4 linked regions of the Homo sapiens genome follow. The protein of the gene in region 2 interacts with the protein of the main gene of each other region in a pairwise test. Each region holds a gene or a part of one and is shown on either strand. Other genes may lie near its edges. The genes, in order: ARID5A, RBPMS, UBAP2 and NAPRT.

What was found.
Region 1: the proteins of RBPMS (region 2) and ARID5A interact in binary tests that used the Homo sapiens proteins (3 or more experiments, as listed by UniProt).
Region 3: the proteins of RBPMS (region 2) and UBAP2 interact in binary tests that used the Homo sapiens proteins (3 or more experiments, as listed by UniProt).
Region 4: the proteins of RBPMS (region 2) and NAPRT interact in binary tests that used the Homo sapiens proteins (3 or more experiments, as listed by UniProt).

What each region holds. Positions count from the first base shown.
Region 1 is NC_000002.12:96,546,747-96,553,148, forward strand, and holds the end of ARID5A (AT-rich interactive domain-containing protein 5A), read left to right. Parts: intron 1-655; coding exon 656-771; intron 772-2,574; coding exon 2,575-2,713; intron 2,714-3,006; coding exon 3,007-3,059; intron 3,060-3,279; coding exon of another isoform or gene 3,280-3,441; coding exon 3,442-3,539; intron 3,540-3,827; coding exon 3,828-3,987; intron 3,988-4,352; coding exon 4,353-5,567; 3' UTR 5,568-5,888; downstream 5,889-6,402. UniProt on the Homo sapiens protein: DNA-binding protein that may regulate transcription and act as a repressor by binding to AT-rich stretches in the promoter region of target genes.
Region 2 is NC_000008.11:30,379,828-30,387,540, reverse strand, and holds the start of RBPMS (RNA-binding protein with multiple splicing), read right to left. Parts: upstream 3,001-7,713; 5' UTR 2,449-3,000; coding exon 2,383-2,448; exon of another isoform or gene 2,140-2,382; intron 1-2,139.
Region 3 is NC_000009.12:34,045,872-34,053,011, forward strand, and holds the start of UBAP2 (ubiquitin-associated protein 2), read right to left. Parts: upstream 3,017-7,140; 5' UTR 2,954-3,016; intron 1-2,953. UniProt on the Homo sapiens protein: Recruits the ubiquitination machinery to RNA polymerase II for polyubiquitination, removal and degradation, when the transcription-coupled nucleotide excision repair (TC-NER) machinery fails to resolve DNA damage. May promote the degradation of ANXA2.
Region 4 is NC_000008.11:143,575,312-143,583,094, reverse strand, and holds the start of NAPRT (nicotinate phosphoribosyltransferase), read left to right. Parts: upstream 1-4,764; 5' UTR 4,765-4,776; coding exon 4,777-5,002; intron 5,003-5,151; coding exon 5,152-5,279; intron 5,280-5,355; coding exon 5,356-5,438; intron 5,439-5,695; coding exon 5,696-5,826; intron 5,827-5,917; coding exon 5,918-6,033; intron 6,034-6,252; coding exon 6,253-6,449; intron 6,450-6,522; coding exon 6,523-6,663; intron 6,664-6,932; coding exon 6,933-7,017; intron 7,018-7,392; coding exon 7,393-7,473; intron 7,474-7,569; coding exon 7,570-7,672; intron 7,673-7,749; coding exon 7,750-7,783. Other genes in the region: EEF1D (elongation factor 1-delta), read left to right, coding at 1,767-1,866, 1,941-2,041, 2,368-2,589, 2,889-3,083, 3,265-3,303. UniProt on the Homo sapiens protein: Catalyzes the first step in the biosynthesis of NAD from nicotinic acid, the ATP-dependent synthesis of beta-nicotinate D-ribonucleotide from nicotinate and 5-phospho-D-ribose 1-phosphate.

The sequences.
Region 1 (6,402 bases), on a different chromosome or scaffold from region 2:
CAGTTAGAACTCTGCAGATGCTCAGGGAAAGGTCAGATATTCCTGAATATTCCCAGAGGAACTACTACCCAGGGACCCCTGTGTTGCTTTGGGGCCACAGCCATGGGATCCTTTAGCTCTCCAGTGAGACTAAGCTGCTTCTCAACTCTGTGTCTGAGCATGGGGCAGATTTTGGAGACAGGATTTCCCCAAGCACCACAGCCCAACCCCGGCCTCCTGTGACTTGACCTCAAGGTGGTTTTGCGTTTCCTTCAAAGATGTGGGGAGATAGTTGGAGCAGAGGAAAGAAAAGGGACAGGTGTGGAGCGGATGCAGCGGGTTGTCGGGGAGCGGGGAGGAGGGCCTGTGTGTGTGTGTGCATGTAGCCTATGTGCAGCCAGGGACACACCCCTTCCCCCTGGCCAATTCTTTTTTTTTTTTTAATAATAGAGACGGGGTCTCACTACGTTGCCCAGACAGGTCTTGAACTCCTGACCTCAGGTCATCGCCTGCCTGGGCCTCCCAAAGTGCTGGGATCACAGGAGTGAGCCCCTGCACTGGCGCCCTCTGGCAACTCCAATTGGGAGTAGGGAGAGTGCTCCTGTTCCTCCCTGCTTGCATCTCATATGCTCTCTCCCCACCCCTTCCTCCTTACTCCTTCCCTCTCTCCTTGCAGCAGCCCCTGTCAAAGGGAACAGGAAGCAGTCCACGGAGGGTGACGCCCTAGACCCACCTGCATCCCCCAAACCTGCTGGCAAGCAGAACGGAATCCAGAACCCCATCTCGCTGGAGGTGAGTTGACTCCCTCTGCTGACTCCCTGGGCACTCTTCCCTGCCACCCTCACCTGTGCTCCGCCTCCAGGTGAACCTGGACACTCCCCAAGCTCTCAGGAGGGAGATATGTTCCTACCCTGGCCCTGCCCAGCAGCCAGGGGACTTACTTGTCATCTGTGGCAGAGAGTTTCAATCTTGGTTTTTGTAGCAGAACCCTTTTTTGAAATGAAGATGACCTACCACCCTGATCCATTAAACAGACAAAAGCTCCAGCCCATGATGTAAAACCACATTCACATCCATTCATTCAGATGCATAACATGGGCGTATAAAGTCACTCGGTGAGACCAGCAAGACTGTTTCGATGAGCACAGAATCTGAAGGGGGAGCTGCAGGCAGCTTTTTCGGAGCACAGTCGGCCCCGGCTTTCATTCATTTTGGCCATTTGCTTTGGTGGCACAGTCTGGAAAAATATCCTGATTCATGCAGAAAAGTGGTTGCAAATGGTAGTTGTCTTTAGCAGCTTGCCAGGAATTCAGAATAGAGGCCTGGAGGAGCAGATTGACTTGAGCAGTTATGAGAGAGCCTTCCTTCTGAGGTCTGCACAGACCAGCCCCAGGGCCCCAGCATGTTATGATTTCATGGGTGATATGTGAGTTCCTATGTTGTTTCTTCTTAGAGGTCTTTAATACCTTAAAAACACTGAGCTATTACAGAAGCTATTTACAACTAACAAAAAAAGTAAAAACACTGAAATAAACTTGAATCAATTATTATTTTTTTTTTTAGACAGAGTCTCACTGTTACCCAGGCTGGAGTGCAGTGGCACAATCTTGGCTCACTGCAACCTCCAGCTCCTGGGTTCAAATGATTCTTCTGCCTCAGCCTCCCGAGTAGCTGGGATTACAGGCATGCACTACCAGGCCTGGCTAATTTTTGTATTTTTAGTAGAGATGGGATTTCCCCATGTTGGCCAGGCTGGTCTCAAACTCCTGACCTCAAGTGATCTCTCTGCCCACCTCGGCCTCCCAAAGTGCTGGGATTACAGGAGTGAGCCACCGTGCCCAGCTGGATCAAATATTTTTGGAACACATGGCTGTCTGCGCTGTCCTAGTCCAGATGGTTTATGTCCTGGAAGCTGTCTGTTCTCTGAGCAGGGTATGGGCCCTAGGCTCTCTGCCCCGAGCCACTCGCTGGATAAACGGCATCAGCAGAGATTGCCCCTCTGGGACCCGCAACCAAAAGTCCTGTGCCCCTGACAGCAGTGCGCAATTGAAGCCCAGAGCTTCACCTCCCTGTGCTCAGCACGGCAGGCTGGGGCCACACAGAGGCTCGGGGAACATGGGCCTCACAGAGTAACCCCAGGGCACCAGAAAGCACCAAGCACCTTTGTTCCTTCAGCTTTTCCCTCTGCGGTTATGGGGGAGTCCCAGGGACACTGAGCCTGCCCTCCTGGAGTTCCTAGTCTGGCGGAGGAGCTGACACAAATAGGACAAATCAAGAACAAGACAGAGAAGTGACCCTGGCCTGGAGAAGGCTGGGGACTGCTCTCGTGGCAGCCTCTGGAGCCAGCTGCTCTGGGGTACCCAGCCTCCGGGGAGGTCCTGGACTCTAGCTCCTGTCCTGGGGCGCTGAGAGCTGACACCTGTGTCTGCCGAACCCAGGAACAGTCACTCCCTCCCAGAACAGTGGCTAGGTGTTCTCTGGGAAACTGGGGTTGGGGTAGGTACCTTATTCCTCCTGCAGCCAGTGGTTTCTGCACATCCCCAGCAGCCAGCCACCAACTGGGGCCCATCCCAATGCCTCCTGTTCTCTCCCCAGGACTCCCCCGAGGCAGGCGGGGAGCGGGAGGAGGAGCAGGAGCGGGAGGAGGAGCAGGCCTTCCTGGTCAGCCTCTACAAGTTCATGAAGGAGCGACACACGCCCATCGAGAGGGTGCCCCATCTCGGCTTCAAGCAGAGTGCGTCCCTGGGGTGCAGGCAGGGAGGGGGGCCCAGCAGGGGACCCCGCCCAGGCAGGGCATCGGGCAGGCACTCCCACTCTGGGTGACCCAGGTTGCAGATAGAAAGGAGGCCTCCCTCCAGGCTGCCACTGGGCCAGGGGTGCACAGGGCACAGCCTGCCCGTCTATTGCAGTGGCCCTGGCTGGGTGTGTGCTGGTCTGTGCCTGGCCTGTCAGGGCACCAGGAAGGGGTGGCATGCTGTCCCCACCTCCCACAGAGACTGACGGCCAGCCTGCTCTTCTCTCCCCCAGTTAACCTGTGGAAGATCTACAAAGCAGTGGAGAAGCTGGGGGCCTATGAGCTGGTAAGGAAGGCACCTCCCAGTCCTTGCCAAACTGCATATCCCTGGGGTGAGCCTGCAGCGCTGTCCTTGCCTCTGGACAGAGGAAGAGCCAGGATCCCCAGTCCTACCCCTGCGTCCCTGCCTCCCTGCCTTCCCCGCTGGTACTCTGCTGCTCAAAGCAGCTTTTCAGCCTTCCCCATCTGTTCTGCCCGCCCCGTGTTGGGAAAACTGCTTGGGCCAGCAGTCCATGGCCCTAGGAGAGAGAATCGGCTGGCCGCTGCTGGAGCCGCAGAGCAGCTGCCAAACTGCAGTCCTTCGAGTCCCTGCGAGGGCGGCCGGAGCTGCAAGGACCCCGCCGCCAGGGGGCGCCCGCCGGCCGCGCCCTCACGAGGTGCCCTTGCAGGTGACCGGGCGCCGCCTCTGGAAGAACGTGTACGACGAGCTGGGGGGCAGCCCAGGCAGCACCAGCGCGGCCACGTGCACGCGCCGCCACTACGAGAGGTACGGCGGGGCGGGCCCGGGTGCTGGACGCCGCCTACCCTGCGGGGCTTTGGCCGACCTTGCCGGGAGGGCCGGGTGGACTCTGCCCGGAGCGGGCAGGGTATGCGCCGTCCTCAGAGCTGCGGGAGCCCAGGCTGGCTGGGCGCACTCACTGAGGGAGCTGAAGCTTTGGGACCAGGAGAGGGCCTTCCTCGGCGCCGGCGGGGAAGGGGGCTCAGAGGAGGCTACAGAGGCCCAGGGAGGGGATGGGCGCCGGCCTCCTGGGGGACATGCGTGGTTCCTCACCAGGCTGGTCCTGCCATACGTGCGGCACCTGAAGGGGGAGGATGACAAGCCGCTGCCCACCTCCAAGCCCAGGAAACAGTACAAGATGGCTAAGGAGAACAGGGGGGATGATGGGGCCACCGAGAGGCCGAAGAAGGCCAAGGAGGAGCGGCGCATGGACCAGGTAGGCCTGCGGCTGGCTGGGGCCACCCTGTCCCTTGCCTCTTGTAGCCCCCTACCCCACAACTCCCTGTGGCCGCGGAGCTGTCTGCTCAGAATACACAGAACCTGCACCCAGGGCGGGACTTGCAAGGTTCCAGGTTCTCCACAGATGGTTGTGCAAGTGGACTCTGAACTCCAGCCTGCGCCCACCCACCAGGCACCTGAGGCTGTGTCCACTCAGAGGACAGGGCACCTTTGGAAAATTCTGTACAGAGGACTGCAGGGGCTGGCGGGGGACCTGGGCAGGCCTGAAAGTGCCACCTCTTGCTCCTCAGGTCAGGATGTGGGGCTGAGGCAGTCCTGAGGCAAGACTTTCTCTCATTCCAGATGATGCCAGGAAAGACCAAAGCAGATGCTGCTGACCCAGCACCACTTCCCAGCCAGGAGCCCCCCAGGAACAGCACAGAACAGCAGGGCCTGGCCTCTGGGTCTTCTGTGTCCTTTGTGGGTGCCAGCGGCTGTCCTGAGGCCTACAAGCGGCTCCTATCCAGCTTCTACTGCAAGGGGACACACGGCATCATGTCACCACTGGCCAAAAAGAAGCTCCTGGCCCAGGTGAGCAAGGTGGAGGCCTTGCAGTGCCAGGAGGAGGGCTGCCGCCATGGGGCAGAGCCCCAGGCGTCCCCAGCTGTTCACCTCCCAGAGAGTCCCCAGAGCCCCAAAGGGCTGACTGAGAACTCCAGGCACCGGCTGACCCCTCAGGAGGGATTGCAGGCCCCAGGTGGCAGCCTCAGAGAGGAGGCGCAGGCAGGCCCCTGCCCGGCAGCCCCCATCTTCAAGGGCTGCTTCTACACCCACCCCACCGAGGTGCTGAAGCCTGTCAGCCAGCACCCCAGGGACTTCTTCTCTAGACTTAAAGATGGGGTGCTATTGGGGCCTCCTGGCAAAGAGGGGCTGTCAGTGAAAGAGCCCCAGCTGGTGTGGGGCGGAGACGCTAACCGCCCTTCTGCGTTCCATAAAGGTGGCTCCAGAAAGGGCATCCTCTACCCCAAGCCCAAAGCCTGCTGGGTGTCCCCCATGGCCAAGGTCCCAGCCGAGAGCCCCACGCTCCCGCCCACCTTCCCCAGTAGCCCAGGCCTGGGCAGCAAGCGCAGCCTGGAGGAAGAGGGTGCTGCCCACAGTGGGAAGAGACTGCGGGCCGTGTCTCCCTTTCTTAAGGAGGCGGATGCCAAGAAGTGTGGGGCCAAACCTGCAGGGTCCGGCCTGGTCTCCTGCCTTCTGGGCCCAGCCCTGGGGCCTGTGCCCCCAGAGGCCTACAGGGGCACCATGCTGCACTGCCCGCTGAACTTCACTGGCACCCCGGGCCCCTTGAAGGGCCAGGCTGCACTCCCCTTCAGCCCCCTGGTCATCCCGGCCTTCCCGGCCCACTTCCTGGCCACCGCAGGCCCCTCGCCCATGGCCGCTGGCCTGATGCACTTCCCCCCAACGTCCTTCGACAGTGCCCTCCGCCACAGACTTTGCCCGGCCTCATCTGCCTGGCACGCACCACCAGTCACAACCTATGCAGCGCCCCACTTCTTCCACCTCAACACCAAGCTGTAGGCCAGCCCATGGTGTTGTGTACACTGTGGAGTCGACAGGGGCCTACAACAGGCAGGTACTGCTGCCAGGGGGCTCTGAACTAGTGCCTGCTACCCAGGACACCCGGGCCATGCCCCTGGCTGGGCAGCCTGGCACAAGTGAAGAAGAAGGCAGTGGGAAAACTGGGTTTATCTCAAGGCAGCAGCCTGAGCCCAGGAGCAGAGGACCCAGTTGTTATAAGGCGCTGGGAGAGGATGGGCAGCTCCCACTGCCCCAGAGCGGAGCTCGAAGCACCCAGGTTGCCCACGGAAAATCCAATAAAAAGACACCAGTGTGAATCCACGTAGCCCTGAGGTGTGTGTGGTATGGGCCTTTGCAACGGCAGGCAAGGCGGGGGTGAGCTTGTGGGTGGGGCTGCCATTAGGGGGCCAAGGAGGTGGACCTGAACGCCACTACCCCACTGAAGAGCGGGCCCAAAGCAAACCCCAGCCTCTGCCGTTTAGGCAGCCTCTAACATCTGTCCTTGCCTTCAGTCCAGTTTCCTAGTTGAGCTTCAGGGAATGCTTGCTGCCTTCCTCATTGTGGAGATGGGGATTGGAGGTCCTGGGAGGGTCGGTGACTTGCCCAGGTTCCCCTGGCAGGAGGGGCAGGGGAGGGCTGCACAGGCTGTGTGACTCCCGTGCTCTGAGCGGGACCCCAGGCTGTTACCAGTGCCCCTGGGGGGTTGGGGGTGTGACCAGGAAGCCTGAGTTGGTCTGCGTTGGTGGTGGATGTAGATTTCTGGGGCCTGCAGCTGAGCCCTCTCTGCAGCCCCACCCCACTTGCCTGAACCGCATGGACAGACCAGAATGACCAC
Region 2 (7,713 bases):
AATGTGCTTAAGAGCAAGTTGCTGATACAATGGGTGGGCAGGGAAAGGGTCAGTGCAGTGGTTTTGTGTAATGCCGGGCACATTAATGGCACTCACCTAATACTCTATTTATTTTACCTGTGGCTTTCAGGGTTAGAAAGAAAAAAACAAAAAAGAGGTTAAGAGTTTTTCAAGAACAAAATATAAACCAAAAATAGGAAATTAAGGCAAAATTACCTGGATCATTCAGGCCACCTTAGTTTCTTTTCCTCAATTTCTGACATTATAAACCCCCCTCTCTTCACGGTCTTAACTGTTTTGTACACGACATCTCTCTTGGACAACTTGGGTTCTGAAATCTTCCTACGTGTCCCCTTACTTTTTACATAACAAGTGTTTTGCTAAAAAGACCGATACTTTCTAGAGCCACATGCCATTCCTACCTGAAAAGGAACGCTGTCAGATAACAGGACAAGTAAGAGGCAGCAACTGTACTGCAATGGCCCGCGATTATACAGCGATTATTATACACAACCTCACAAGGACGGAGGAGCGTCCAGGAACAGGGCAGGCAATCCCTTGGTCCTGGCAGCTGTTAAGAGGGGTCAAGCAGAAAAATGTGACTTTTCTATACTTAATTTTAATGTGGGTATGATTTTTAGGACATTGAACCTCTTTTGCTACCTACCAAAAGGAAAAAAAAAAGTTTTCTCAACTGGGTGAATAAAGAAAGATGGTTTCATATAATATTCTAACCCTGAGAAGCAAACAGATTGCACATCTAGCTGAAACAGAAAGATTTCTGAAGCGATGATTATCTTGATATGGTAAGTGAATTAGTTAAATATGGTAATTCCTAAAAAAGCACACTTGTCATTATTTTTAAATTTTTTTAAGTGGTAGGGAAAATAAATAGCAAAGCAGCCAGTAAAGTTCAAGAAAAAAAATCAGAACACACCATTCAACTCTCCATCGCTTTGAAAAAAGAAATGCCAGTAGCATTCCTACAATTGTAATTAGAAAACATGCAAGTAAACAACTCTTCAAATAGTCTTTTATAATAAAATAGAAAATGTCCTCGGGTGAAAAAGCAATTTTTGGCTGACTGCAATTCATTTAGGTTTTCACTACCATACAACTGGGTGACGAGTAAAATCTCCTATTTATTTTGCATTGTTTGGCATAGTCTCGCTCCTCTACCTTCTCCATCTAAATAGTTACCATTTTCCAAGTGGACAATGTGCAGAGAAGTTGTATGTATTAATGAATTCCTCTGCAATTTTGGTTTCACTATCAGAATTGAAGTTTGCACACAACATAGTGTCTCAACAATGATCTCAACATTCTAACGCTTTAGAATCCGTTTACCTTCTGTGTTCACCTATATCAGGATCCAATACCTGTGTGAATCTTTTCGGGTCATATTTAGACGTGCACTTTCCTGCATCTACACACACTCTCAAGTTCCTCTAGAATGTTTAAGAACTCAACTGTGTGGGATGTTAAGAAGTACGCCAGAAATAATTTCTTGGACTCCAGATAACGTACCTGCAAAAAGAGTCATTTGGTAGGATACCACAAATATCCTACTGAATTCTGAAACGTTTGTTCCTGAGTCCGACTCCCCTTCTGACCACATCTACTCAATTTTGTTTCCACCGAAGGAACGCTCCGCAGTCACAAAACTTTCATCATGATTACGGACGCACCACCTAAAATGCATGCTCAGAAGTCAAAGTCCTATGAAAATACCCTCGATGAGCATTTGGTGAATTGCTGCGTTTTTAACCCTCTTACTCTGCTCCCCTCAGCTGCACGGCCCCTAAAATCACAAGCGTTCACCGCCCAGGCTCGGGGTCTTTGACTCAGCAGAGAAGAATGTGGCTGATGAGTTATCTATTAATCCAAAAAACCTCGGCTAGAAAGATATTTCACCAAGAACTTTTAACACGGAAAGGGAGGGGGCAGGGAATAGAGGTATCTTTTAACGAGAACTTTCCCCCGAGTTTCTTCCTTAAACTGCTCCCCCCCCGACCCTGAATCCATACACAATTTCCAGCCCCGGCCCTAAGTCCTGACCCTCCGAGTCCCGATTATCTGAGGTCACCCAGGAGTCAGCTCTCGGTTCCACTTATAAATCCCGGGCAAACAAAGCTGAGCATTATACTTACAAAAGTCTCCGAAAAGTCCTTGGAGTTACGCAATTTGGGGCCCGCAGACGCGCGTGGACACAAAAACACACGCTCCCGAGATCCACCCTCCCCGGGCCACACTGTGGGGCTGCGTCCGGGGCACGGGCCATGCCTGAACCTTCTTCCACCGCCGCGCCCCGGGCCCGCGCCCCGCCGGCCGCCCGCACTGGGTCCCGCGTCGCCCCCGCCACCACACCGAGCCGCCCAGTACCTCCTCCTCCTGAAGGTTGGCCTCGCTCGGGGTGTTCTCCTTCTCGGCTTTGCCGCCGTTGTTCATCTTCCCGGTCCTTCCTCGCCGGGCCGGGCAGGGCTGGGGCGCGGGGCTGGGCGAGGGCGCGCTAGCCCACTGGAGCCTTCCCCGGGCGCCGGGGCTCCCTCGGGCGGGCGCCGCGGGCTGTGGGGCTGGAGCTGGAGCCGGGGCAGTGGCTGTCGGGCTCGGGTTGGGCTGGGGCTCCCGCGGCGAGTCTGCGACGGCGGCGGCGGGCGACTCAGGAAGTGCAAGGGAGAGACGGGGCAGGGCGCGGGCCGGGAGCGGGGCACCGAGACAATCGGGCCCCGGGAGGGCGACCTGGAGAGGGAGGGCGGGAGCCAGGGGAGGAAGGAAGAAGGAAGGAAGGAAGGAAGCAAAGGATGGGGCGAGGACGCGCGTCCCAGGAGTAAGCGCGGAGAGTTGGGGCTGGGGGCTGCAGCCGCTGGAAGGAGGGGACGGGGGTGCCTAGAGAGGAGGAGGAGGAGGAAGAGGAGGAGGAGGAGCGGGGCGGAGGAGCGCGGGCCGCGGCTGGGACGCTGGGACCCGAGAGCCGCTGAGTACGCGCTCCAGGCAGGCTCTGGGAAGTCCGGGATGGAAGCAGCTCCCTTTCTCTCGCCTTCCTCCCTCCCCTCTCCCCTCCCTCCTCTCCGCGCCTCTCCTCCTCCCTCCGCCCTCCCTGGACGTGGGCTGCCGGCTGCAGCCCGGAGGGACGGGGCGCGGGACGGAGCCCCCCGCGGGAGGAGGGGCCGGCGGCCGGATGGCGCGCGCCGGGGAGGGGCAGCGGGCCGCGGGCGGAAGCGGCGACCCCAGCCCCCGACTCAGCGGCTGGTCGGAGGGCGAGGGCCCGGGAGGCCGAGGGCAGGGAGGTCGGGTCCCGCCGTTCCCTTGGCCCCCGGGGGCCCCGGCGTCTGCGCGCCCCGGGACTTCGGGGACCCTGCCCCGCCGGGGCCTGGACCGGGACCTGGGATGTGTGCGACTTTTAGTTTGCCGGCTTTTACCGAGGGATTTGCACCCCTGGCCCTAAGCCCACCCTTCCCGAGCCAGACCCGGTTCTTCCTCTGCTGCTTGAATGACAGCATGAGAACTCGAGGGACACCGGGGACAGCCCACTCCGGGCCGGCTTTTTCAGGACAGGGCTTCAAACCCATCTCCAGCGCGGGTCCTGCGACGCGCCCGGAGCCTTCCCCGCTTCGCTTCCTGAGCGTCCCGCGGCCCCCCGACTCCTCTCCCAACTCTCACCAGACTGTTCTGGGATTGTTTACCTGGCCTCTCCCTCACCCTTCAGAAAGCTCCTTCCTGGAAGAAAAAAAAAAATCCTGCCCTATTTATCTTTTTAATCCCACGGCTATTTAAACGGGCTAAGGGGTATATAGCAGGCACTCAATAAATATTTGTTGGCAAAGTGAATATTCCTTATTGCAGGCAGAGCTGGGGGTCCGTACGGAGGAACTTCAGAGGCTGGAAGCACGCTTGAAAAAGAAAGGGGGCCTGGGCTTTGCACCAGCTTCAGGATTGCGTACTTGTTTCCTCATCCGTGAAATGGGAGCAGCTGAATGTGTCTCCTCGAGTTTTCGAGGTGATTATAGGTTGATAGAGCTATATACAGCACCCAGCATTTATTCTTGCTTCGTTTAGGTTTACAATACATGGAAGCTAACATTATTATTAAGAAAACTTCTATTTTTCCAGGGCCTTAGAAAGCGTTTCCAATACTCGATCATTTAAGCTTATGGTTTTTTGGTTTTTTTTTTTTTTAGAAAAATGAGGGTCTCACTTTGTTGCTCAGGCTGAGCTCGAGCTCCTGGCCTCAAGTGATCCTCCTGCTTTTGGCCTCCCAAACTGATGGGATTACAACGTGGAGCCACCGTGTTAAACTCTTAGATTTGACTGCTACAAAGGTATAAATGTGGAACTCCATATATCAGTGGGTTCTGCCCCACTTCTTCCTCCCAGGAATTCTCCATCCCAGCCTGCTGCTCCTGTCTTGCACCGGTAACAGTTTCCAACTACAGTATTTGCTTAACTGTTTCTCCCCACCCCCACCAGACATTCTTTATACTTGGTTTAAGTGCTGCTGGGGATAGGGCGGGGGTGGCTGTGGGAGTTGCAGATAAGGACCCTCCCTTTAGGGAGTTTAAAGTGGTATGGTGGCTCACACTTGGAATCTCAGCACTTAAGGAGATAGAGGAAAGAGGATTGCTTGAGCCCAGGAGTTCAAGACCTGCCTGGGCAACATAGTGAGACTCTGTTCTCCACAGAGGGGAAAAAAAGAAAAGACAAAAAAATAAAGTGGTATGGAGCCAAGATACTCTCAGAATCCTCTTTCCGATTATAGAAAGCAAGGAAAATATTTGCTTTAAGGGCATTATGAGGAGAAAAACAGTAGTGATACTTGGATTTACATATTGGATTTATCTTGGGGGTTTGGAGATTTTGAAACAGGAAGATTTCCATAAGGAAAACATGTTTTTTTAATTGCTGTCATAATGTGATTTCTCTCTAAGGGGAACAAACATGTATCCTGGATGAAAATAAACCAACTCTTGAAACTGCAACCCAAGACATTCAGAAGAGATAAGGCTACAGTGAATGTGGAAACTTTGCACGTGTTTGGATGTATTGATTGCCTTAACTGGCAGCTCTTTGCACTGCCAGCTTCCCTCAATTACATGAGGAACCACGAGGGGGCAATGTCTTCCCGAGCAATAATAGCTGAGTGGTGGTCTTAGGACCCCGTGGTGGCCCATGATGCTAGCACTGTGTCTTTGGCCATTCTTGCCTGTCATGGAGCATACTCCACAGAAGGGCATGGTCTTCTTGGATCCCGGCATGGGCCCAACAAAAATGACAATGTAGTCAATAGTTCCACTCAGACCTCACTTAGGAGCAGGTGAACTATGTTGTGTGATATCAGGATGCCCGGAGAACCTCTCCTATCCCCACCCAGGGAAGCATGGCTTAATTCCAAATAAAGAATCTGATTTCTTTGTCTTTAAGCCAAGCCAGGACTTTGTCCATTGTTAAAAGTCAAAAATCTCTGGGATAAGAAACAAAAATAAGTTCCAGGCGGGGCACGGTGGCTCATGCCTGTAATCCCAGCACTTTGGGAGGCCGAGGTGAGCCCAACACCTGATGTCAGGAGTTCAAGACCAGCCTGGCTAACATGGTGAAACACCGTTTCTACTAAAAATACAAAAAATTAGCTGGGTGTGGTGGCGCACGCCTATAATAGCAGCTACTTGGGAGGCTGAGGCAGGAGAATTGCTTGAACCCGGGAGGCAGAGGTTGCAGTTAGCCGAGATTGCACCATTGCACTCCAGCTTGGGCAACAAGAGTGAAACTCTGTCACAAAAAAAAATAAGTTCCAGGAGAGGATCCTTGTCTGGCTTATTCACTGTTGTATTCCCAGCATCTAGACAGTGCCCAACACATAGGAGGCGCTCAGTTATTTTTTAATAAATGAGCATTTTAAGTCTGATGGGTTACTGATTCTCAGGCCTGAATGTTATTACTGGATTTTTCCAAGATCCAGCAGGAAGGACTAAATCAGTGGAGATGTCTTAGAACAGATAGTCACAGCAATGGCATTAGGCAGGGTCTTGGCAGTGTTTTTTTTTGTTTTGTTTTTTGTTTTCTGAGAGTCTCGCTCTGTGGCCCAGGTGACATTGTTTAAGCAAATGTCTCACCCAGGCGAGAACTGTTCAAGCAATTCTCCTGCCTCAGCTTCCCCAGTAGCTGGGACTACAGGTGCACACAACCACACCTGGCTAATGTTTTTGTATTTTTAGTAGAGACAGGGTTTCCTCATGTTGGCCAGGCTGGTTGGTATTGAACTCCCAAACTCAGGTGATCCACCCACCTCAGCCTCCCAAAATGCTGGGATTACAGGCATGAGCCACCGGCCTGGCAGTGGTCTTTAGTCATGATTTTGCAGGGGGGACCCTAGATAGAGACCTTGTGCAGAATGGAACAACTGATAAGGTTTCAAACAGTAAAAGATAAAATCCCACCATTGAGGCCGGGCACAGTGCCTCATGCCTGTAATCCTAGCACTTTGGGAGGCCAAGGCGGGCAGATCACCTGAGGTCAGGAGTTTGAGACCAGCCTGGCATGGTGAAACCCCATTTTTGAAAATACAAAAATTAGCCAGGCGTGGTGGTGGGTGCCTGTAGTCCCAGCTACTCGGGAGGCTGAGGCAGGAGAATCGCTTGAACCCGGGAGGCAGAGATTGCTGTGAACCAGATCACACCACTGTACTCCAGCCTGGGCGACAGGGAGACTCCATCTCAAAAAAAAAAAAAAATCACACCATTGAATTTGACATATCAGACAATAAAATCGACACTGATGCAGGGATGGCTATACTATATAGTCAGTGGTGAGAGTGACATTCAGGGTGTTTTCAGAAAAACATATGGGGTTGGGATAATATGTCAAGAAAAGGGAGATTTCCTGCTTTTTATCCTTTTCATGAAGAGTAGTTTAGAGTTATTTGAAAGAGCAATAATGTATTACCAATAAAACTCAAGGAAAATCTGTAAACAGACTTTTGCTATTTATAAAACTTTGTGATTGAAGGCAAAGAGTTTGAATTTGTGTGGGGGAGGAAAATGTACCTTCAATCAGGGTATAAATGATAATTACAGCTTGTTTATGACTTTAAAGAAAGATTCCAAAGTAATATCTCCTCAGTAGCAATAGTTCTCAGGCATCCTGAGAATTATAAGACCACAAAGGGATTTTTTTTTTGAGACGGAATTTCGCTGTAACCAAGGGATTTTAAATCCTGTAATAGTTGTGCTGAAGACCAGAAAAGTCCGCTTTCTCCCCAGCCTAACACTCTACCTACTGTATTGCCTGACCTTCGAGGTTACCTTGAAAGGGTAATATTGTATACACCTGTAGTTTTTTACTACTCACTGCTGTTTCTCTGGCAGTGTTCATTTCGAGGCTTGCCTTAAGAAATCCAAACCTATAATTATGTCTTAAATGTTTGCCTTTGGGAACTGCAGACATTAAAGGTCTATTTTGAGGCGATTTGCATGGCATGGGCTTTGTACCTATGTTAGCTTTGCAGCAGAAAGCTGCAGTATCTACCATGTGTGTTGTGATTGTCTATTAACCCTTCGGCTGAGCCAAAGAAGTTATTGAGGCCAGAGGGGCTGTATTTTATTGGTTTTTGTCATCCTTGACACCTCTCTCTCCCTTACCTCGTGCCTGCTCACCTCCAGCTCCTCTCCATCTTCCCCTGATTTTTTTATTAATTTATCATTGTGGCAAAAGACACATAAC
Region 3 (7,140 bases), on a different chromosome or scaffold from region 2:
AGATTACATGGTGATATTCCCTACATGTCCTCCCTCTCTTTGCCTTCCTTCAGGTTGTATCTCCACTCTTTGGAAAAAACGGCTGCTTCTAAAATCTATCAGAGATCTACTAACTTACCAGTCAACACCATGGGTACCATAACACTTAGCTTTTAAGAACGCTCCATTTACTCAAAATAACAACTAAGAGCTCCATTTACTCAAAATAACAACTAAGAATGAACGGGTATTTGCTGACATACAGGTTTCTCACAAGGAAAAATAAAGACAGATGTGCTTAAGGGCAGAGAACTTTACAATCTGTAAATGCCTGCAGACTGCTTCTTTAGAGCAGGCATTAACCCTTGCTAATATACTTAACCACCCCCACCCCCCAACCCCACAAAGTGTCTTATTAACAAAGGAAATCTTAACAATAAATCATCATTTAAAAAAAAAAAAAAGAGGACTGGGAAATCAACAATTCAAAGCTAACATTTTAGAAGTAAAGGCTTCATGCCGGGCGGGGTGGCTCACGCCTGCAATCCCAGCACTTTGGGAGGCAGGCGGATCACGGGGTCAGGAGATCAAGACCATCCCGGCTAACACAGTGAAACCCCATCTCTACTGAAAAATACAAAAAATTAGCCGGGCGTGGTGGTGGGTGCCTGTAGTGCCAGCTACTCGGGAGGCTGAGCCAGGAGAATGGCGTGAACCCGGGAGGCGGAGCTTGCAGTGAGCCGAGATCAGGCCACTGCACTCCAGCCTGGGCGACAGAACAAGACTCCATCTCAAAAAAAAAAAAAAAAAAAAAAAAAAAAAGAAGGCTTCACTTCAGACCACTCCAAACCTTCAAGAAAGGTTTGTACTTTCTACACATATTTTATACTTAAGAGGGTAGATACCGGGACCAGTTCCCATCACAATACAAGTACATATTGAAATAAACCTATTAGTCTACATGTTCTCACACCATCACACCATTTCTCCCCATACAATAAAAGTCACTCAGGCTAATACTAAGAGAGACACTCCTGGTGATCACTACATAGACTGCACTAGTAACCAGGAAAGGGAAGCAGAGGTGTTATTGTTGTTCCAATATAGTTCTAAAGGCAACTCCATGTGACTACTGCTGATCCAGCCCACATTTAAAGGGAGGACAGAGGAAACCAGAGCAGCAGGAAACAGGCAAGAGAGGCAATTACCACAACCCTTTCCCATGGCCTCATTCTCTCCCATGCCACCACTTTCGGGCATATTTCAATCACAACAAAAACCTTCCTTCTCTGAAAGGTTTCATAATTATTGAGGGTGAGAGGCAACAGGGAAGCAAATGGGGGAAATCAGCGCTGTGGGAAAATCTCTCGTCACACGTATCAACTAGCCATAAGTAGGAAAATCAGGAGTATGCTGGCAGCAAGCAAAAGGGCAGTTTGGGAAACTAATCACTTCTGCCTAATGATAAGAGAAGCCTTCAAAGCAATGGAAGGACAACCCTAGCGAAGGGGCTCCACAGGTGAGTGTATTGAAGGAAACTATCATCTCCAGGGAGTGGAATACATTCCCTTTCCTGAGGTAAAAGGGGAACACACCAATGTAGGATACGGGAGAGCTTAGGTATCATGTTCAACTTCCTTCCACCTTTCACAAACTGGCACTAAAACGGATACACAATTCACAGTGAAAAGTGAGGAATGCAATAACTAGTCGCATACCCCTTGTTGAAAAAAGTGCTGTCACAACGGAAGAGGAATATAAGAACTGGGTTCACCCAAGAAATTATATGCCCTTCAAATAAAAGATAATCTTTGGATACCTTATGGAGACCTGAAAAAACCCTCAACTAGCTGAGCACCGTGGTGCACACTGTAATCCCAGATACTCAGGAGGCTGAGGTGAAAGAATCGCTTAAACCCAGGAGCTGGAGGCCAGCCTGGGCAACATATGGAGACCATATCTCTAAAATTAATAGTAATTTTTTAAAATCTCTCAACTGTTAGGATACACTGGTGCTGTAGAAAGACAATAAGCCTAAATACTGGCAAACCATATACCTTCCTTGAATGTGAGGTAAAAACAATATCCAATAGAAGTGGTAGTAAATGACTGGATTACATCAAACAGGAAATAACAGTAATAATGATGGGATCAACCCCTAAAGCGAGCAAGCATTAGAGACCAGAGTGGTGACAGTTGAGATGCGTGGGCAACTAATTAGACTAAAAACTCAGGGGAAAATGTGGAAAAGCCGAGTGGGAAAGTGATTCAGAGGCAAACAACTGAGTTGTAATGCACCAATGAAAGAATAACATTTTGAGTATGTATTATTAACAGAGAGAGCTTTGCCGTTTACAAAGCGCTCAAAAACCTACATTAAATAATGAACTGTGATATAACCAGACTACAGGAACGGCGGGTGTGGAGGAAAACTGAGTCCCAATTGAGACCAATGCCCTACAGAATTGAAAAGAAGTAGAACTGAACTGTGACTCCGGGTAAGCCAGGAAAGGTTAGAGAGCGCATAAGTTGGGGCTATAACAGGGCCAGTCCCAAGACTAGCTACGGGCGTGAAAGCGGAAAGGTGATGAGATGGGACCGACAGCGTGGCGGGGAAGCTCCAGTCTACTGGCAGGCACCGAGGTGGGAGAGAAAACCACACCCTCCAGGGCAGAAACCCGAAAGGGGGGAGGGGAGGCACCCCTGGGGCTGGGTGGGGCCCAGCCGACCTGGACGGGGGAAAGTAGGAAGAAGCACAGGGCAACGTGAGGGGAAGAGGAAGGAGGGAGCCCGGGCCTGGACGTAGAGGGACCGTGGACCTGGCGAGTGAAGCTCGGCCCGGTCCTCACGGGTGGGCGCCGGGGCAGTCTGCAGGCGGTGGGGTTTCAGACGAGCTGAACCCAGAATTAGAAAGCACACGCTGCAGCGCTCAGGGCCCTGGAAGAGGGAAGGAGAGGGAGAGGATGGCAATTACCGCTGCTGCTCTCGGAGGACCCAAGACCCGCTGCCGCCGCCGCCGCTCGTTACCTGCCAATGTGCCTCTTACAAAGCGGCGGCGGCGGCACAGGCTGCCCAACCCGTCACGTGACCTCGCGTCACGGGCGAAGGAGGAGCCACAACACGTCGCTCGTGCGCGGCTTCAGAGTCAGCCTAGGCGGCGCGCGGCCTCTTCCAGCCACCACCTCCACCCCAACCCCGCGAAGCCAACCGCGTGGAGGTGGGGACCACAGAAAGGAACAAATAAGGGAGACTTGATAATATGTATTGTACTCGGAGTCATCAGGAGAGTATTACCCACCGCATACAAGGTGCCCACAACTGCAGCTCGTCGTCGCGCCGTGATGACCTCACAAAGCACCACAGGTTACTCCCCTGTGGCCGCCCTGTGCTCATCACGTGATGTGGTCCAACCACTCAGGGCAAGCCTGGCCTCCCAAATGTTGCACGAGGGGACCACGACTCCCAACATGCTGCACAGCCAAGGCGACCCCTACCGCAGCCTTTCTCCAGCGGGCTTCTAGACGAACCCCCTAGAGACCTTAGAGCCGAGGGAAGGCCGGGACGGAAAGCGGACTAAGCTGGCTTGAAGGACTAATACCATTGGATGCCGCCCGCCATGTGGCGGAGCGTGGTGCCTGCTGGGAGGTGTAGTCCTGGCGGGGGGTGGGGTTCCGCTCCCACGTTCCTGGGCTCGCTCTGCGCCCTGCCCCCTGCGCGGGAAAACGCCAACGGCTAGCAGCGAGAGCCTCGGCAAGGCGGAAGGTGCGCCCACTTTTAGTCTTTTTCAGTGCGGTTTTACTTTTGCCCTCCCAAGCCCCTTCTGGGTGAAAAGACTAGAATCTACTGAACGCCTACTCCAAGTCAGCCGTTTATTTCTGTTATATCATATAATCAACTCCTTGAGTCCAGGATTTTCCCTATTTAAGGATTTAAAAAAAGAACCTTAGAGTTGTTTGTTGACCGAAGAGACCCAGGTTTTCTGTCTTTAGAAAATTAATGACCTCCTCTCAATAGGATCTGACCTGTTGTCAACTCCAAGAATTACGAATAAATAAGATGATGGTTTATAATTGTAGCATGGTGTTTTAAAGTATTTTCCATTTACTGGCCTGTTTGGATGTGAGGGCGTTCTGGCTATCTTGTCACCCCATAGATCGCCAGGGCTGATTCGGCTGATCTGGCTGTCTAGGCGGGTGGCCCCTTCCTCCCGCACCTCTCCATGTGCGTCCCTCCCGAAGCTGCATATTCGGTCGAAAAGGAGGAGCATCCCCCATAGAAGAGGACAAGTCAAGGATATAGGAGTAGCTGCACGCCCGTGTTAACAAGCTCTCAAGGTCCTCTAAACAAGCTCTCAAGGTCTACTTACTGGCCTGTTTTATCCCAAGCTAGTTACATACAAGGACTTTGCAGTCCCGGCATGCCTTATCTCAATTGGAGCTTTCCTCTGTAATAACACTTCACCGGCTTGTGAAAATTAAATGAGATTATGTAAAATGCCTGCTTGACACATAATAAACCCTCAGTAAGTATCAGTAATCATTTTCACACTCTACCCATCGGGCCCAAAAGGTCTAAGTAAGGTAGAAAGGGGAAATTAGCTTATACTGAACTTTGTACAGGGCACTATGCTAATTACTAATTTGCTAGTTATTAAGTAAAACAATTGACATCTTAAACAGCCCTATCTAGTTCAAATAAAGCCTTTGTTATTCATCTGAATTAAAGAATGCTGCCGGGCGTGGTGGCTCACACCTGTAATCTCAGCACTTTGGGAGCCGGAGGAGGGCGGATCACAAGATACGGAGTTTGAGACCAGCCTGACCAACACGGTGAAACCCCGTCTCTGTTAAAAATACAAAAAAATGTCCGGGCGCGGTGGCTCACGCCTGTAATCCCAACACTTTGGGAGGCCAAGGCGGGCCGATCACGAGGTCAGGAGATCGAGACCATCCTGGCTAACACGGTGAAACCCAGTCTCTACTAAAAATACAAAAAAATTAGCCGGGCGTGGTGGCGGGCGCCTGTAGTCCCAGCTACTCGGGAGGCTGAGGCAGGAGAATGGCGTGCGGAGTTTGCAGTGGGTCGAGATCGCGCCACTGCACTCCAGCCTGAGCGACAGAGCAAGACTCCGTCTCAAAAAAAAAAAAAAAAAATAGCCTGGCGTGGTGGCACACGCCTGTAATCCCAGCTACTCAGGAGGCTGAGGTAGGAGAATCACTTGAACACAGGAGGTGGAGGTTGCAGTGAGCCAAGATAGCACCACTGCACTCCAGGCTGTTCGACAGAGCAAGACTCTGTCTCAAACAAAAAAAAAAACAAAGAATGCTTAAACTGTGCCTTTAACAAACAGAACTGGGCCGGGCGTGATGGCTCACGCATGTAATCCCAGCACTTTGGGAGGCCAAGGTGGGTGGATCACCTGAGGTCAGGAGTTTGTGACCAGCCTGGCCAACATGGTGAAACCCTGTCTTTACTAAAAAAATACAAAAAATTAGCCGGGCGTGGTGGCGGGCGCCTGTAATCCCAGCTACTTGGGAAGCTGAGGCAGGAGAATCACTTGAACCCAGGAGGCAGAGGTTGTCGTGATCCAAAATTGTGCCACTGCACTCCAGCCTGGGAGGCAGAGTGAGACTCCATCTCAAAAAAAAAAAAACAAAAAAAAAACAGAACTTATCATCATCACCATTCATGTGTAGGTGTATCTTATCTCACCTCTTTTGACAATGAGCTAGGATTGTGTCTTGTCTGTTCGTCTTCCTCCTGTTTGCCCTGCTGCTTTATAGAAATGTGTGGGAGCATCAGAGATAAAAACCACCCTTGAGAGTCAAAGACTTAATGGACAGATCAGGCCAGGCATGGTGGCTCATGCCTGTAATCCCAACACTTTGGGAGGCCAAGGCGGGCGGATCACCTGAGGTCCAGAGTTCAAGACCAGCCTGGCCAACATGGTGAAACCCCGTCTCTACTAAAAATACAAAAATTAGCCAGGCATGGTGGCGGGTGCCTGTCATCCCAGCTACCCGGGAGGCTGAGGCAGGAGAATCACTTGAACCTGGAAGGCGGAGGTTGCAGTAAGCTGAGATCATGCCATTGCCCTCCAGCCTGGGTGACAAGCGCAAAAGTCCGCCTCAAAAAGAAAAAAAATGACAGATCAGGAGAAAAGGATTCTGAAAGGAATATACAAACTTGATAACAGTGGCTGGCTCTGAGGGGTGGGAAAGAGGTTTGTGATTGGGGTTGCTGGCCCAAAGGGACTGCAGTCTAACGTTTTCGCTTTTTACTTGGAGAAGGCACTGGTATATAACTTACGTAATTATAAGATTAACTTGGCCCAGCGCGGTGGCCAAGCACTTTGGGAGGCCAAGGTAGGCGGATCACAAGGTCAAGAGATTGAGACCATCCTGGCCAACATGGTGAAACCCCGTCTCTACTAAAAATACAAAAACTAGCTAGGTGTGGTGGTGCACCTGTGGTGCGCACCTGTAGTCCCAGCTACTCCAGAGGCTGAGGCAGGGGAATCACCTGAACCCGGGAGTCGGAGGTTGCAGTGAGCCAAGATCGAGCCAGTGCACTCCAGCCTGGCAACAGAGCAAGATTCCTCTCAAAAAAAAAAAAAGAAGATTAACTTTATGAGGTCGGGCGCAGTGGCTCACATCCGTAATCCCAGCACTTTGTGAGGCCGAGGCAGGTGGATCACTTGAAGTCGGGAGTTCAAGACCAGCCTGACCAACATGGAGAAGGCCTGTCTCTACTAAAAACCCAAAATTAGCCTGGCATGGTAGTGTATGCCTGTAATCCTAGCTACTCGGGAGGCTGAGGCAGGAGAATTGCTTGAACCTGGGAGGCGGAGGTTGCAGTGAGCTGAGATCGTACCATTGCACTCCAGCCTGAGCAACAAGAGCAAAATTCTGTCTCAAAAAAAAGGAAAAAAAAAGATTAGCTTTATGAAAAGGAAGACCAGAGACCACGTGTTAGCTCTGTGACCCTGTACAAGCTGTGTCACTTCTCCAGGCCTCAATTTCTTGTTAAATTCATTTTCAAAAACATCTGCCTTTTCTGTGTCAGGGACACTGTGCTGGTTACTTTTATTACATTATCATTTATTAAGCAAGAAGTCCTACCAAGAACCTAGGATCAGAGAAAATAAGAACATCAAAGCCC
Region 4 (7,783 bases), about 110 Mb from region 2:
AGTTACCTCTGCAAAGGCCCTGTCTCCAAATAAGGTCACATCCTAAGATACCGGGGGATAAGACTCCAGCATGTGGATTTGGAAGGACATTATTCAGCCCATGGCAGGGGCCCAGTCTCATCTTGGATTTGGGGTGGGAGTGCTCAGCAGACACTGGGGTTTCAGAACTGCAGGGTTTCTGGTAGCGTGGTGCTGGCACAGGGTTACAGGCATGGGTCTGGCTCTGAAGTGTTTGCCTTTGGCATCCCCCAAGTCCCTGAGGGGCTCTCTGAGGCCCGCTGTGACTGCACTGGGTGACCTGAGCCTGCCCGTTGAAGCTGTGCTCAGGGATTCTGATGCCTGGCATCCCTAGTCCCCCCTGAGTCAGCATCAAAGGAGGGGACTCTCCCTGTGTCCTGAGTGCTGTGGGCTCTGGCCTAGTGGCCCGCAGAGCCAGGCAGTGGTGAGACGGCCCCCGCTGCTCATCATGCAGCCCGGGGCCAGTGCTGACTTAGTGCCTCTTCCAGAGGGGACCTTTTCCCTGTCCTTGGGCCTGCTGTGTGGGGTGCATGAGGCCTCAGGTGCCACTCACAGACTCCGGCCTCCTCAGGACCCAGCCCCACTCCCGCGGGAGGTCTGCTGTGATTCTCCATGCCCCCTGGCGCCCCAAAGCCTGGCCCTCCCGTGCTCCGGCTTCTGCCCCCGAGTTTGTCAGTTTCTGCCGGTGCCTCCCGTACCCCCACCACCATTCACGCGCCTCTGCCAGCCTGGCCTTTCCCTGTCCATTTCCTCCTGGCCTTGCTGCCAGGTGGGCCTCCTGGGCCAGTTTGGCTCGGCCTTGCCCATGATCTGCGGGGCTTAGCTCCCACACCCTCCAGATACATAAACAAGCATTCCCCACAGCATGGTCCCAAGGACGGTGGCAGGAGGGCCCCAGGGATGGGTTTGCACGTTGGGCAAAGGCCTGAGTATGTCCGCACCTGCTGCAAGGAGCGGCTTTGCCTGCCCGGCTACTCCAGGCCCCTCCCCACAGAGAGGGAGCCCCGGGGAGCTGCCGAGATGGGGTTTGCTGAGAGCTCCATGCAGCCAGGTGCACCCTGTCCTTCGAGCCATCCTGTTGGAGGGTGGGCAGGCTAAATGGCCCATGCGTGCAGGTAGATGCTTAAGGACTGGCTAGTGTTAAGGGCCAGGAGGCTGGGATCCTGTCTGGGCCCCGAGGTATCAGTCTCAGCTATGGCAGAGTATGAGGTGGGCTTGGGGCCCTGGATCACCTAGAGACTGGCTTGCTGAGTGAGATGGCAGGCGTGAGGCCCAGGGAGACAAAGCTTTGGGTGGCTGCTGTCCACACAGGTGGGCTCCTTCCTTCTTCCCCCACTGGGCCCTCAGCTGCTCCCGCCTCCCATTTCCAGTGCTGCCTGGTCCCCTGAGGCGTGTCCCAGGTTGTCCCTAGGACTGTGAGTCCTTCAGCACCTCCCACCCAGCCTCTGAGCCTGGCTGCTCAGCAGGATTCCGCCGGGCAGCAGCAGCCATGGCCCAGCTCCCCACAGCCTCCGTCTCTGGGGCACCAAGAGCCTCCTGTCCTGGACTTTGCCTGGCTGAGAATTTCACTGTGGTCTGTGGTGGCCGCCACCTCTGAGGTCATAAGTTTGAGCTGGGCATCAGCGGGGGGCACCTCCTGCTCTCCCGAGCTGTAGTTTTCCTTCCGTGAGTTCCTGCAGTCCTGAGCATGGCAGGGGGACCCTAGGAGCAGGCTGGGCACTGAGCCCTCCCCTCCTCCTGCCTTGCAGAGCTCAGGCCCCGGGGCCTCCAGCGGCACCAGCGGAGACCACGGTGAGCTCGTCGTCCGGATTGCCAGTCTGGAAGTGGAGAACCAGAGTCTGCGTGGCGGTGAGGCCCCGGGCCAGTGGGTTGGGGCTGTCCCTGGCCCCTGCCATCTAACCGTGCTCCCCTTGCCCCCCCAGTGGTACAGGAGCTGCAGCAGGCCATCTCCAAGCTGGAGGCCCGGCTGAACGTGCTGGAGAAGAGCTCGCCTGGCCACCGGGCCACGGCCCCACAGACCCAGGTGAATGCTCTCCCCACGCCTGACACTGCAGGGGACCACGTGGCCCTGCTGGCTTCCACGTCGCCCTGTGGGCTGGCCCCAGCAGCAGTGATGAGCTGGCAGCCAGGATACTGGAGTCCTCAGGTCCCCAGGAAGGTTTACAGTTAGCCCTGGGCAGGTGGAGGCAGTTTTTGTCTTTCCTGGGGCCCTGCATGTACACAGCTGCGGTACACAGGGGCTGCCCTTCCTCCAGTCAAAGGAGGGAGGAGGGCCAGGAGGTGGCCAGGCAGCTCTGGGCCCTGGTTGGGGCGTCTCAGCCGTGCCTCCTGTCCCTTCCCCTGTGGCAGCACGTATCTCCCATGCGCCAAGTGGAGCCCCCAGCCAAGAAGCCAGCCACACCAGCAGAGGATGACGAGGATGATGACATTGACCTGTTTGGCAGTGACAATGAGGAGGAGGACAAGGAGGCGGCACAGCTGCGGGAGGAGCGGCTACGGCAGTACGCGGAGAAGAAGGCCAAGAAGCCTGCACTGGTGGCCAAGTCCTCCATCCTGCTGGATGTCAAGCCTGTGAGTGGGCGGGGTGGGGCTTCAGGGGGCCAGGCACTGCCCTGGTGCCCGCCTAGCCGGCTCAGCCTGTGACCCTCCCCCTGCCCTCTGGGTTCTGGGGAGACTTTAAAGCCGAGTTTAGAAGTCTTGGGATAAACACAAACTTGGAGGCAGGAAGGTGTGAATTTGGATTGTTTTCTGTGGGCCCTTTAAGGAAACAGAATTGTGGACACACAGTGGTTGAGGGTAGGGTGCATGCAGGTACTTCCTGGGTGTTCTGAGGGTGGCTGACCCCAGCTTTTCCTCCCCTTTCCCCACAGTGGGATGATGAGACGGACATGGCCCAGCTGGAGGCCTGTGTGCGCTCTATCCAGCTGGACGGGCTGGTCTGGGGGGCTTCCAAGCTGGTGCCCGTGGGCTACGGTATCCGGAAGCTACAGATTCAGTGTGTGGTGGAGGACGACAAGGTGGGGACAGACTTGCTGGAGGAGGAGATCACCAAGTTTGAGGAGCACGTGAGTGAGCCGGCCGGGGAGAGGAGGGGAGAGGAGACTGGGGACCCTGGCCCATACCCTGCACTCCACCCCACGGCAGTGGGGAGCGAGTCCCAGAGTGAACCCCACCTCAGAGGAGGCTCCTGGCTCCGAGTGGGCTGTAGGGGAACAGCCCTGACCGTCACCCTCCGCCTCTCCTCAGGTGCAGAGTGTCGATATCGCAGCTTTCAACAAGATCTGAAGCCTGAGTGTGTGTACGTGCGCGCGTGCGTGAGGCCCTGCCACGATTAAAGACTGAGACCGGCCCTCTGGCTCCGTCCTGGTCATTTCCTGCTCGTACCTGGCCTGTCTCCCTCCCTGTCTCAGCCCCATCTCTGCCCTGCTGTTCCCACACAGTCATCCTGGCTGCTGCCACCCTCTGTGGCCATGTCACCTTGCCCCCAGCAGACCTCCGCCTGTCCCTCCATCTCCTGGCCACTCCCTCCCAAAGCTCTGGCCCTCCCTCTTCTTTCCATTGCAAAAGCAAGTCCAGTTCAGGGGGTTTAAAAAGCCAGAAACAGAAACTGTTAGGTCACTATCTGGAGAGGCCACCACCCCACCACTCTGCCTCCTGTTGGCATTGTCCCCATGGGAGCAAGCGTGCAAGCCTGGAATTGTCCAGGAAAGAAGTCCCAGTAGCACCCGGCCCTGCTGCCATGCCCTTTGTCATGTGCTGTCCCGGCCCTCCCCTCACCTCATTCATTCCTGGAATCCCTGCCCCTTGCTCCAGGGACTGTGCCCCTCCCATGATGTTCTGGGGTGGCCAGAACGTGGCTGCCTGGGCTCTGTGGAGCTGTGCCTCAGCATCCTGACAGCCGTATGTGGTCAGCATGGGTGGCCACACTCCCTCCCCTGGACCACCCGTGTTTGCATTGGGGTGAAAGAGGATGGGGTGTAATTACTTGATTACTTCTGGTCAGACTCTGTCCTCGGGGCCCCAAGCCACAGGGGAATGGATTCTCCCTGGGTAGTGGCCCCTGACTTTGCCCTCAAACCTTTAGAAAGTTTCCTGTGGGGCTTGGACTGCAGGACCCCATAAAAGCCACCACTGAGGGACACTGGGCCTTCATAGCCACAAAAGGTCTTTTGGTGCCAGCCGACAGTGGGCATGCGCCCCCCTGCCCCACGCCGCCCTTTCCTGGGTGCCAAGCTCTTTCCAAGCGACATTTGCGTCCATCTGGGCTGCCTCGTCCTAGCCTGGCTGCTCAAGCTCTAACTAAGGCAGCCTCTGGCCTCCCTCCCCAGGCCCAGGGCAGGAGCTGGCTGCTGGCCAGCGGTTGTCTTCTGGGTCGGTGGGGGTGGAGTCTGGCTGGTCTGTCCTCCACCCTTTCCGCCGCCTGGCAAGTCCTGAGCTGCACCTCATTGCCCGGCCAAAGGGCAGAGACACGAGCGACTGGGGGCACCTCTGGTGACCAAGACCGGGCTGCGCTCCAAAGAGGCCGTTGGGCCTGGAGTGGGGTTGGGGGGTCCGAGAGGAGTTGGGTGACATCCCCCACCCCATCCCGGGTCCAGCTGTTTCAGCCCCTCTCGGCGCGCCGATACTATTAGCCCCACCCGTCCTCCATCGAGTCCCGTGCCGCTCCCAAACGGCACGATAAGCCCCACAGGGAGTGCGCCATAGGCCGGGGCGCGTCACGGGGTCGGGGCGGGGCGGAGTCCGGACGTCGGGAGCAGGATGGCGGCGGAGCAGGACCCCGAGGCGCGCGCGGCGGCGCGGCCGCTGCTCACTGACCTCTACCAGGCCACCATGGCGTTGGGCTATTGGCGCGCGGGCCGGGCGCGGGACGCCGCCGAGTTCGAGCTCTTCTTCCGCCGCTGCCCGTTCGGCGGCGCCTTCGCCTTGGCCGCCGGCTTGCGCGACTGTGTGCGCTTCCTGCGCGCCTTCCGCCTGCGGGACGCCGGTAGTCCCCCGTCCGCGCGACGAGCCCCCCACGCCCGGCAGAAACCCCCACCTATGGCCGGTGGAAGTCCTTGTCCCCCCGTGGAACCCCCCATGTCCCACGACCGGTCTGTCCCCGCGCTGGTCTCAGCGCAGTTACCTCGTTTCCAGACGTGCAGTTCCTGGCCTCGGTGCTGCCCCCAGACACGGATCCTGCGTTCTTCGAGCACCTTCGGGCCCTCGACTGCTCCGAGGTGACGGTGCGAGCCCTGCCCGAGGGCTCCCTCGCCTTCCCCGGAGTGAGTAGGGGTAAGCGGGCGGCGCGGCGGCCACGGGGTGCTGGGCCGAGCGCGGAGCTGACTTCTCTCCCCGCAGGTGCCGCTCCTGCAGGTGTCCGGGCCGCTCCTGGTGGTGCAGCTGCTGGAGACACCGCTGCTCTGCCTGGTCAGCTACGCCAGGTGGGCTGCGGGCCACTGGCAGGGAGCGTGGGCATGGGATGGGCCCCCAGCGCCGGGGCTCCGTGCTGGACTGTGGCGGCGGGGCTGGCTGCCCAGGGGTCCCAGGACTGGCCTCCCGCCCCCACTCTTCAGGGTGTAAGGAGGGGCTGGGTGAGGGTGGAGCTCCCAGGTTGGAAGTTCCAGGCCCCAGGTAACCGCCGTCTTGGGTGGCCTAGTGATCCTCACCCTGGGACCCCCTGACTCTTGGCTCCCCACAGCCTGGTGGCCACCAACGCAGCGCGGCTTCGCTTGATCGCAGGGCCAGAGAAGCGGCTGCTAGAGATGGGCCTGAGGCGGGCTCAGGGCCCCGATGGGGGCCTGACAGCCTCCACCTACAGCTACCTGGGCGGTGAGTGTCTGGTGCGGGGCAAGGCAAGGGCCGGGAAGGAGGAGCCCCATCTTGGCCCGAGGTCCCCCAATCCCACCGCCTTCCTCCCCAGGCTTCGACAGCAGCAGCAACGTGCTAGCGGGCCAGCTGCGAGGTGTGCCGGTGGCCGGGACCCTGGCCCACTCCTTCGTCACTTCCTTTTCAGGCAGCGAGGTGCCCCCTGACCCGGTCAGTCCCTCCTCTAAACCCTGCTGTCTCCAGGCGACAGGCCCCAAGCCAGCCCTTGCCCTGGCGAGAGGTGTGCCACCCAGGCAGGTCACCCCAGTGCTGTCCCAGGAAGCTGGCACGGGCTGCATTACCTTTGCTCTCAAACTAGGGTGTCCCTGGCTGCTCCCAGGCCTCATCCTGCATTCCTGGCCCCCATTCTTCACCGACTCTGTTCCACAGATGTTGGCGCCAGCAGCTGGTGAGGGCCCTGGGGTGGACCTGGCGGCCAAAGCCCAGGTGTGGCTGGAGCAGGTGTGTGCCCACCTGGGGCTGGGGGTGCAGGAGCCGCATCCAGGCGAGCGGGCAGCCTTTGTGGCCTATGCCTTGGCTTTTCCCCGGGCCTTCCAGGGCCTCCTGGACACCTACAGCGTGTGGAGGTGAGCCCGGGCACTTTAGGGGTGGGCTCAGCAGAACCTCAGCAGCCTCTGACTCCCTTATCTATTTCTGCAGGAGTGGTCTCCCCAACTTCCTAGCAGTCGCCCTGGCCCTGGGAGAGCTGGGCTACCGGGCAGTGGGCGTGAGGCTGGACAGTGGTGACCTGCTACAGCAGGCTCAGGAGATCCGCAAGGTCTTCCGAGCTGCTGCAGCCCAGTGAGTTTCCCGGGGAGGAGGTGTGCCTGGTGGGAGATCCCCGGGGTTTGGGAATGGGCAGGGAAGGACAGTGAGGTACTCTGCTGAAGTTTCAGCGGTGATACTGCAGGCCGTGGCAGGGAAGTAAGTGGTGGGGCTCCCTAGGAGCTCCCAAGCAGAAGGTGAGCACAGGTGTCCTTGACTGAGGCGGGGCGGGGAGCAGGGGGACACCAGGGTGAATCAGGAAGACCCGAGGGGTGGCCCCCACCCTTTCTCCACCCACGCGGCAGGTTCCAGGTGCCCTGGCTGGAGTCAGTCCTCATCGTAGTCAGCAACAACATTGACGAGGAGGCGCTGGCCCGACTGGCCCAGGAGGTGGGGTGGATGAGTGGGTAGGCGGAGGGTGGCTGGGGGGCTCTGGGGGCCCCTGCAGGTTCTGGCTGGGCTCATTGCCACCTCCTTCCCCGCCCAGGGCACTGCCACCCCCTTCCCCACCCAGGGCACTGCCACCTCCTTCCCCCACCCAGGGCACTGCCACCCCCTTCCCCACCCAGGGCACTGCCACCCCCTTCACCCAGGGCAGTGCCACCTCCTTCCCCACCTAGGGCACTGGCACCTCCTTCCCCACCCAGGGCACTGCCACCCCCTTCCCCACCCAGGGCAGTGCCACCTCCTTCCCCACCCAGGGCAGTGCCACCCCCTTCCCCACCCAGGGCAGCTGGGCTCACGGCCACCCCCTTCCCCACCCAGGGCAGTGAGGTGAATGTCATTGGCATTGGCACCAGTGTGGTCACCTGCCCCCAACAGCCTTCCCTGGGTGGCGTCTATAAGGTAGGGACAGTGTCGGGGGCCCAGGTGGGGGCAGGTCTGAGGGATGGTGCTGGGTGGGGGATAAGGACCAGCCAGCTCAACGCCCTCTTCCTGCAGCTGGTGGCCGTGGGGGGCCAGCCACGAATGAAGCTGACCGAGGACCCCGAGAAGCAGACGTTGCCTGGGAGCAAGGCTGCTTTCCGGCTCCTGGGCTCTGACGGTGAGGCCCTCCCATCCCCCCTGCTGTCCACCTTCAAAGCACCAGGGCCCCCGCTTATTCTTGCCCCGTCCACACAGGGTCTCCACTCATGGACATGCTGCAGTTAGCAGA